Linked DNA regions of Homo sapiens. The protein of the gene in region 1 purifies or fractionates together with the protein of each later gene. This does not show direct contact. Each region holds a gene or a part of one and is shown on either strand. Other genes may lie near its edges.

Evidence for each region. Proteins that work in one complex are often made in the same cells at the same time.
Region 2: the proteins of WDR75 (region 1) and DCAF4 purify together in Homo sapiens (co-immunoprecipitation; one large-scale study listed by IntAct). This does not show direct contact.

What each region holds. Positions count from the first base shown.
Region 1 is NC_000002.12:189,472,325-189,476,055, reverse strand, and holds the end of WDR75 (WD repeat-containing protein 75), read right to left. Parts: intron 1,871-3,731; coding exon 1,724-1,870; intron 1,340-1,723; coding exon 1,248-1,339; intron 844-1,247; coding exon 639-843; 3' UTR 504-638; downstream 1-503. UniProt on the Homo sapiens protein: Ribosome biogenesis factor. Part of the small subunit (SSU) processome, first precursor of the small eukaryotic ribosomal subunit.
Region 2 is NC_000014.9:72,932,852-72,936,503, reverse strand, and holds part of DCAF4 (DDB1- and CUL4-associated factor 4), read right to left. Parts: intron 1,482-3,652; exon of another isoform or gene 1,318-1,481; intron 1-1,317. UniProt on the Homo sapiens protein: May function as a substrate receptor for CUL4-DDB1 E3 ubiquitin-protein ligase complex.

The DNA.
Region 1 (3,731 bases):
GTAGCAGCTTCACTGCTTTAACTAAAACAGGGGATCTGGATCGTTTTCTACTAGCAACTGGACTTTGGGTCAGATCATCTGAATTCAGAATTTTAGGCAGCCCATATTATTATATAATATCCTCAGTGAGGTTTGTGGAACACCACATAATCAACTCGTCTCTAAATTTCTCTGAGAGAAATAAATACACTAAGAGGAATAAATCAGGACTAAAGAAACCTCACTCCAGCTCAGGTCACATTTGGCCACCAAATGAATTTGTGTTAAAACAATTATGTCAACAAAGCCTTTTAACTTTCAAATCTTTTCGTATCTCCAAACTGCAGCTTAGGGGACATATGCTGTACAGTTCAAGTCTCAGTTCTGCTGTATCACCTGTGAAGAAAATACCTACTTGTTTTATAAGGCTGATGTGTGACTCAAAATAAAAAAATGAGATGATGTGGTATATCAATGATCCAGTAACTGTAAAGCATGATGCAAATACATGTTCATATTATCAGTTTTTTAAAAAAGCAAAGTTTGTTAATATTTATTATCTTATTTTTAGAACAGAAATAACATTAAAATAGATGTTTTTAGAATATCAACATACAATCAAAAACACAAAGTCCAAGGATCCTCCCCATCTCCAAGGCTTAAAGGGCAGCTATCCAGCTGTAGTCTATTTTCCTAAATTTTCTCAGTTCTTTTTCTTCAGATTTTGACAACTGATGTATAATGTCTTCTCCTAAACCTGTGTTACTTGTATCCTGGACTTTTTCGGTAAAATCATTTTCTTCATCTGAATCTTCACTTTCTTTTTCTTCTTCCATATCTACATCTTCAGGAATTTCCTTAGCACTTTAACAATAACAGAATAAAATATAAACACTATTAAATGTTTCTAAACAGTAACTTTCTAATTTGACACCTATGTAGAAATATAATCACACAAAGTAAATGAAGAATTTTGTTACTAAGTACACTTTAAAAATTATGGGTTATTTATAAAAGAGCAGGTGAATTTACAAACATGTAATTTTAAATTATGTACCAAGCCCTTAAAACACACACATACAAGATCTTTTTTGAAACTTATTTTCAATGTATGTTACTTGACTTAATAATCCTATAGCCTTTAAATCTATTTTAAAACTTATGAAATAAAAAGAAATACAGTGGAAGAATACTCTAAAAAAGGATAAACACAAACGATCCTGTTTCCCAAAAGAGAGTGTCCAAACCTGTCTTAAGAACTGCTTTACCTCTTAGTCTCTTTAGACAGCAGCAATGAATTTACAAACATGGAGCACAGGAAAGCAGCAGATGGCAGGACATGGGCTGGAGTGTGAAGAAGCTGGAGTCAAACAGAAAACACGGTTGCAATTAAAAAGCTTATCCTCCACCGCAGTCTGTTCCTACAGTGTCCTCACGGAGTCCCTTTTATTGTAAATGCCAAGAGTGAAACATGAAAAGGCTTTCCCTATACAAAAGCCAAACCAAAGAAAAATACATTTCTACCTTCCTACATTTATGCCAACAACCACCCCTATCCCTACACCAGGTCCAGGACAAAACAATCCCAGATCACAAGGTTAAGTTACTCGGTTTGTTGTTAGTTATTTAGTTTGGGTATTAAAGTTGTACAGCATACAAATTACAGATTGACTGTGTCAAAACTCCAACTTCAGGTGCTTTAAGTGCATTTAATCTGTTTCACATGGTTTTCATAATTACTTACCTCACTAATTGCGGGTATGTTTTCTGTTAAGGGTAGTTGTACCAGCTCATTCTCTAAAGTTTCGTTTAGTTTTTCATCCTGCTGTTGCCTGTGTTTTCCCAATATGAAATAAAATGGGGTTGTGGGAAGACTTTCTTCTGCTAGCAGCTTTAAGGATTTAAGACAAAGAGAAATTATTTCAGAAAAAAGGAAGAACTGTGTTTGACTTAACAGTAAGTACTACAGAATCATAAAAAGTCTGGGATGAAAGGAATTTTACAAATTATCCAGTTAGTATGATCCTCTCATTTCACAGAGAAAGCAACTGAGGCCTAGCATCCCACTTATGAGAAGAGCTAACAGTGAACACTTAGATGACAGAATAATACATGCATTTACCACTGCTTCTTCACCAAATCCCACAAAAATGACAGCAAAAGGGTTTTCAAAGGGCACATACTCACAATGATAGAAAATGAGGGAAAAGGCCTTAACAGTAACATGTTGGAAACTGGAGAGCAGGCTGAAGGATGGTATTGAACTTAGTAGACCTGAGAAAGCACAATTCTAAGCTGGCTGTAGGGAAAGCCAAGAAGCATCCCAATTCATACTACAGAATCCTGCAAATGCTCAGGAGTTGGTAATAATAGTAACTCTGGATGTGGGGTGAAAATGGGACTAGACAAACCAGACGGGCTGGTGGAAAGTCTACTTAGAAAGCACCCCACAGCTCCTCCTCAGCCCCAGCAGAGGGCTCTACATCTTTAGGCTAGGTATGGATAGCGGTGGTGGTGGTGGTGGTATCTTCATATCTAGGCAGTTGTACTTCATGTAGGGGGTTCTCAGAACACTGACAGGTAGGTCTAAATCCTTTAGGCAGGAACGCATAGAATTTTTTATGGTTAATTTGACCAGCCTAAGTAAGACCTAAAGATACAGCTAACCTTGGAATAACAAGGGTTCGAATAACACGTCTATGTGGAGTTTCTTCTATTTCTGCCAGACCTGAGATGGCAAGATCAACTCCTTCTCTTCCTTAGCCTACTCTATGTGAAGATGAGGATGAAGACCTTTGTGATGATCTATTTCCACTTAATGAATAAATATATTTTTCTCTTTCTTATAATTTTTTTTTTTGAGATGGAGTCTTGTTCTGTCACCCAGGCTGGAGTGCAGTGGTGTGACCTAGGCTCACTGCAACCGCCATCTCCCAGGTTCCAGTGATTCTCCTGCCTCAGCCCCCGAGTAGGTGGGATTACAGGCATGCACCACCATGCTTGGCTAATTTTTGTATTTTTAGTAGAGATGGGGTTTTGCCATGTTGGCCAGGCTGGTCTCGAACTCCTGACCTCAAGTGATCTACCTGCCTTGGCCTTCCAAAATGTGGGATTACAGGCAAGAACCACCGTGCCCGGCCTCCTTATGATATTTCTTAACTTTTTTTTTTCCTCTAGCATACTTTATTGTAAGAATACAGTATATAATACATATAATACAAATAACTGTTATCAGTAAGGCTTCAGGTTAAGTTTTGGGAAGTCAAAAGTTATACATAGGTTTTCAATCTCTACATTGTTCAAGGGTCAATTGTAATGACATTTGAGACTGTCTCAATAAATTAGCTCAGATAGTGGAAGCCAAGGGATAAGTTCTGCACAGGCAGAGAACTTCCAAGTGGCTTTTTAACCCACTTTTAAATCCAAAGACAGCCAAGAATCATCAGACTCTGATGAAAACCTCTAGATGAAAGGCAGCAACCAAGACAAACCAAAAACAAAAAAAAATGTAATGGAAACAGACCATGAAAAAGAAAAAAAGATTTGATGATAAAGATGAGGAAATCTTCCAGAAAACAAACAAAAAATAGGCAAAACAATAAGAATAATAGAGAACCATTCTAGAAAGTCCAGCACTAAATAATAGGAGTTCTAGAAAAAGAATAGAGAAAGAAGTAATTAGCTCCTCCTTAGTTCTCTACTCAAAACTCTCCAAGGGGCCCTATATGTAACTCAGAGAAAAAGTCAGAATC
Region 2 (3,652 bases), on another chromosome or scaffold:
CAACCTCTGCCTCTCGGGTTCAAGCGATTCTCCTGCCTCAGCCTCCCGAGTAGCTGGGACTACAGGCACCTGCCACCACACCCAGCTAATTTTTGTATTTTTAGTAGAGATGGGGTTTCACCATGTTGGCCAGGCTGCTCAAGAACTCCTGGCTTCAAGTGATCTACCTGCCTCGTCCTCCCAAAGTGCTGGGATTACAGGCGTGGGCCACCAAGCCCGGCTCCAAAACTTTTATCTTATTCATTGTCCTAAACAATGGCTCCTGAACACCATGTGTGGGTTTCCCTATGGATCAGTTATCTTATACCCCAGCTAAAGAATACAGTTGTATTTATTAATAGTTAAGTTACAAGCTGAAAGGGACTGCGCACAGGAAGGGAAGCACGTGTGGCCAGTGTTAAGACTGGTAGGAAAATGGCTGCGTGCAGTAGCTCATGCCTGTAATCCCAGCACTTTTGGGAGGCTGAAGTGGGAGGATCTCTTGAGCCCAGAGTTTGAGACCAGCCTGGGCAATAGAGTGAGACCCCATCTCAAAAAGAGAAAAAGACTGATAGGAAAAATAAACTCTACTGACATAAAGATTATTATTATTACCAACTCTATAAAAAGGTCAAAATTTCTTTAGAGTGCATATTCTGTATATGAAATGATTCTAATTTGTTGAATTATGTAACAATGCATGAATACAGCAAAGAACACACGAACTGGTGAGTCAAAGACTTCAGATCACCCACAGGAGGCAGGACTGTGTCCCACTCACACCATTATTCTCAATAGGGGGCTGCACAATCAGCAGGACGCAGCCGATGATAAAATCACTGGCGAATGCCAATTTGGGCCAGGGAGAGCATGTGTTCACCCCTAACTCATACAGGCACTGCAATCTGGTAAGGGAGCCTGCCAACCTCAAGTAATATAGTTAGCAAGGTCAAGCAAAAATCATTTTAAAGGCCGGATGTGGTGGCTCACGCCTGTAATCCCAACACTTTGGGAGGCCGATGCGGGTGGATCACCTGAGGTCAGGAGTTTGAGATCAGCCTGGCCAACGTGGTGAAACCCCGTCTCTACTAAAAGTACAACAGTTCACTGGGTGTGGTGGCTGGTGCCTGTAATCCCGGTTACTTGGGAGGCTGAGGCAGGAGAATCGTTTGAACCCAGGTGGCGGAGGTTGCAGTGAGCTGAGATTGCACCACCGCACTCCAGCCTGGGCAAAAGGGTGAAACTCCGTCTCAAAAAAAAAAATCATTTAAAAAGTCACATACTAATAGAAGCCTTCCAAATACAGTAAGAGTTTAAAGGCTAGGACAAAGACAGTACCTTTCTAGTACTTTTAAGAAGCCTGTTCAGGGGTGGGGAGTGTGTCTTCTCTAAACACAAACACAGTTCATTCTCTATGGCCGCTTTATAGTCCATGTTTGCACTCATCACTCTGCATGACTGTTTGTTCATACTCCCATCTCATACTGGACGTGAGGTGAATTCTGTAAGGCAAACATCCTACTTTGTTCTTTTTTCTATTCCTAGCATCCATGACCTAGTTGGTGCTTAGTAAATTTTTGCTGAACTGAAGCAAAGCAAAACAAAACCTGTGGCTACTTTACATTTAAGTCCCAGGTAGCTTCTTTCTGCTCTGGGTTATTTCCACTTACTACTCCACACACATTTACAAAGCGCCCACTCCATGTGAGGCACTGGGGAGTGGGCAGAGATAATAAGCTGTGCTACCTGGCTTGGAGGCACCGATTGTTTAATATGGGAGACAGATGCACAGACCAACCCCTGCAGCACAGGATAAGGATGAAGACCCAGGTCTCTCCAGGTGTGGTGGGAGAGAAGGGAGTGACTGCTCCACATGCCTGGGCTGGAGGTGGGGGAGGGAGATAAGTGCAGTCTGAAGAATGAAAATGTCAGGCAAGCCCGGCGTGGTGGTTCACGCCTGTAATCCCAGCACTTTGGCAGACTGAGGTGGGCAGATCACCTGAGGTCAGCAGTTTGAGACCAGCCTGACCAACATGACGAAACCCCAACTCTACTAAAAATACAAAAATTAGGCCGGGTGCAGTGGCTCACACCTGTAATCCCAGCACTTTGGGAGGCCGAGACGGGTGGATCACCTGAGGTTGGGAGTTTGAGACCAGCCTGACCAACATGGAGAAACCCCGTCTCTACTAAAAATACAAAAATTAGCCAGGCATGGTAGTGGGCGCCTGCAATCCCCACTACTTGGGAGGCTGAGGCAGGAGAATCGCTTGAACCCGGGAGGTGGAGGTTGCCGTGAGCCGAGATAGCGCCATTGCACTCCAGCCTTGAGCAACAGAGCGAGACTCCGTCTCAAAAAAAAAAAAAAGAAAATGCCACGTAAGGCAGTGGGGGCGGGGGGCCTGCAGGCTGTTTGGTATGGCCAGAGCCTGAAGTTCAAGAAATGGGGGGGATGAGCCTGCAGAGGCAGACAGGGCATGATCATGAGGACTCTGGGTGTGCGAGGAGTGACATGATTAGAGCTGCTAAGAAAGGGCACCTGAAAGGCAGCGGCATGGGGTGACAAGTAAGAACTGCAGTGGCAAGCCAGGTGAGATGAACTCGCTTACACATTATGGACATGGTACTTGGGATAGCGGAGCCTGGATTTAGATTTAGGCAGCAAATTTCATGGGAGAGGTGGAGAGAGGAGTTGAGAAAGGTTAAGTGAATAACTGGTAGAGTCATGAGCAGGGAGACTAAGAATAAAGGAAGAACACTTTGGGGAGAGGAGAGTAAGTCTGATTTTGAACAAATCAATCTCAAGATGCAGGCAATGGGAAATACGGGTCTGAGAATACAGAGAGAAATTGAGCCTAAAGAGACAGATTTGAAAGTAAACAGGATATGGTGACATGGACTGGGACAAATGGCACCAAAGTGGTAATGGTATACAGTGAGAATTAGAGACTTTTTTTTTTTTTTTTGAGATGGAGTCTTGCTCTGTCACCCAGGCTGGAGTGCAATGGCACAATCTCGGCTCACTGCAACCTCTGCCTCCTGGGTTCAAGCGATTCTTCTGCCTCAGCCTCCCGAATAGCTGGGGCTACAGGCGCATGCCACCATGCCTGGCTCATTTTTGTATTTTTAGTAGAGATGTGGTTTCACCATAATGGCCAGGCTGGTCTCGAACTCCTGACCTTGTGATCTGCCCATCTCGGCCTCCCAAAGTGCTGGGATTACCGCACCTGGCCATTAGAGACAATTTTATCTAGTAATAATATAAAACCCAGTATGCATCACAGTTTGTAGATCAGTGCTTCTTAAGGATTATTTTGCCCACCAGGGGACATCTGGCAATGTCTGGAGACATTTTTGTTTGTCACAGCTCGGGAGAAGGAGGGGTAGGCTGCTACTAGCGCCTAGTGGGTAAAAGCCAGGGATGCTGCTAACCACCCTACAATGCGCAGGGCAGCTTCCACACATTCTTCAGCAAGAATTATCCAGGGCTGGGTGCAGTGGCTGATGCCTATAATCCCAGCTGCTCGGGAAGCCGAGGCAGGAGGATTGCTTGAGCCTAGGAGTTCAAGACCAGCCTGCGCAACATAGCAAGATCCCGTCTCAAACAAACAACATTAAAAAAAAGAAAGAAAGAAAGAAAGAAAAAAAAATTATTCAGCTGGGTGTGATGGCT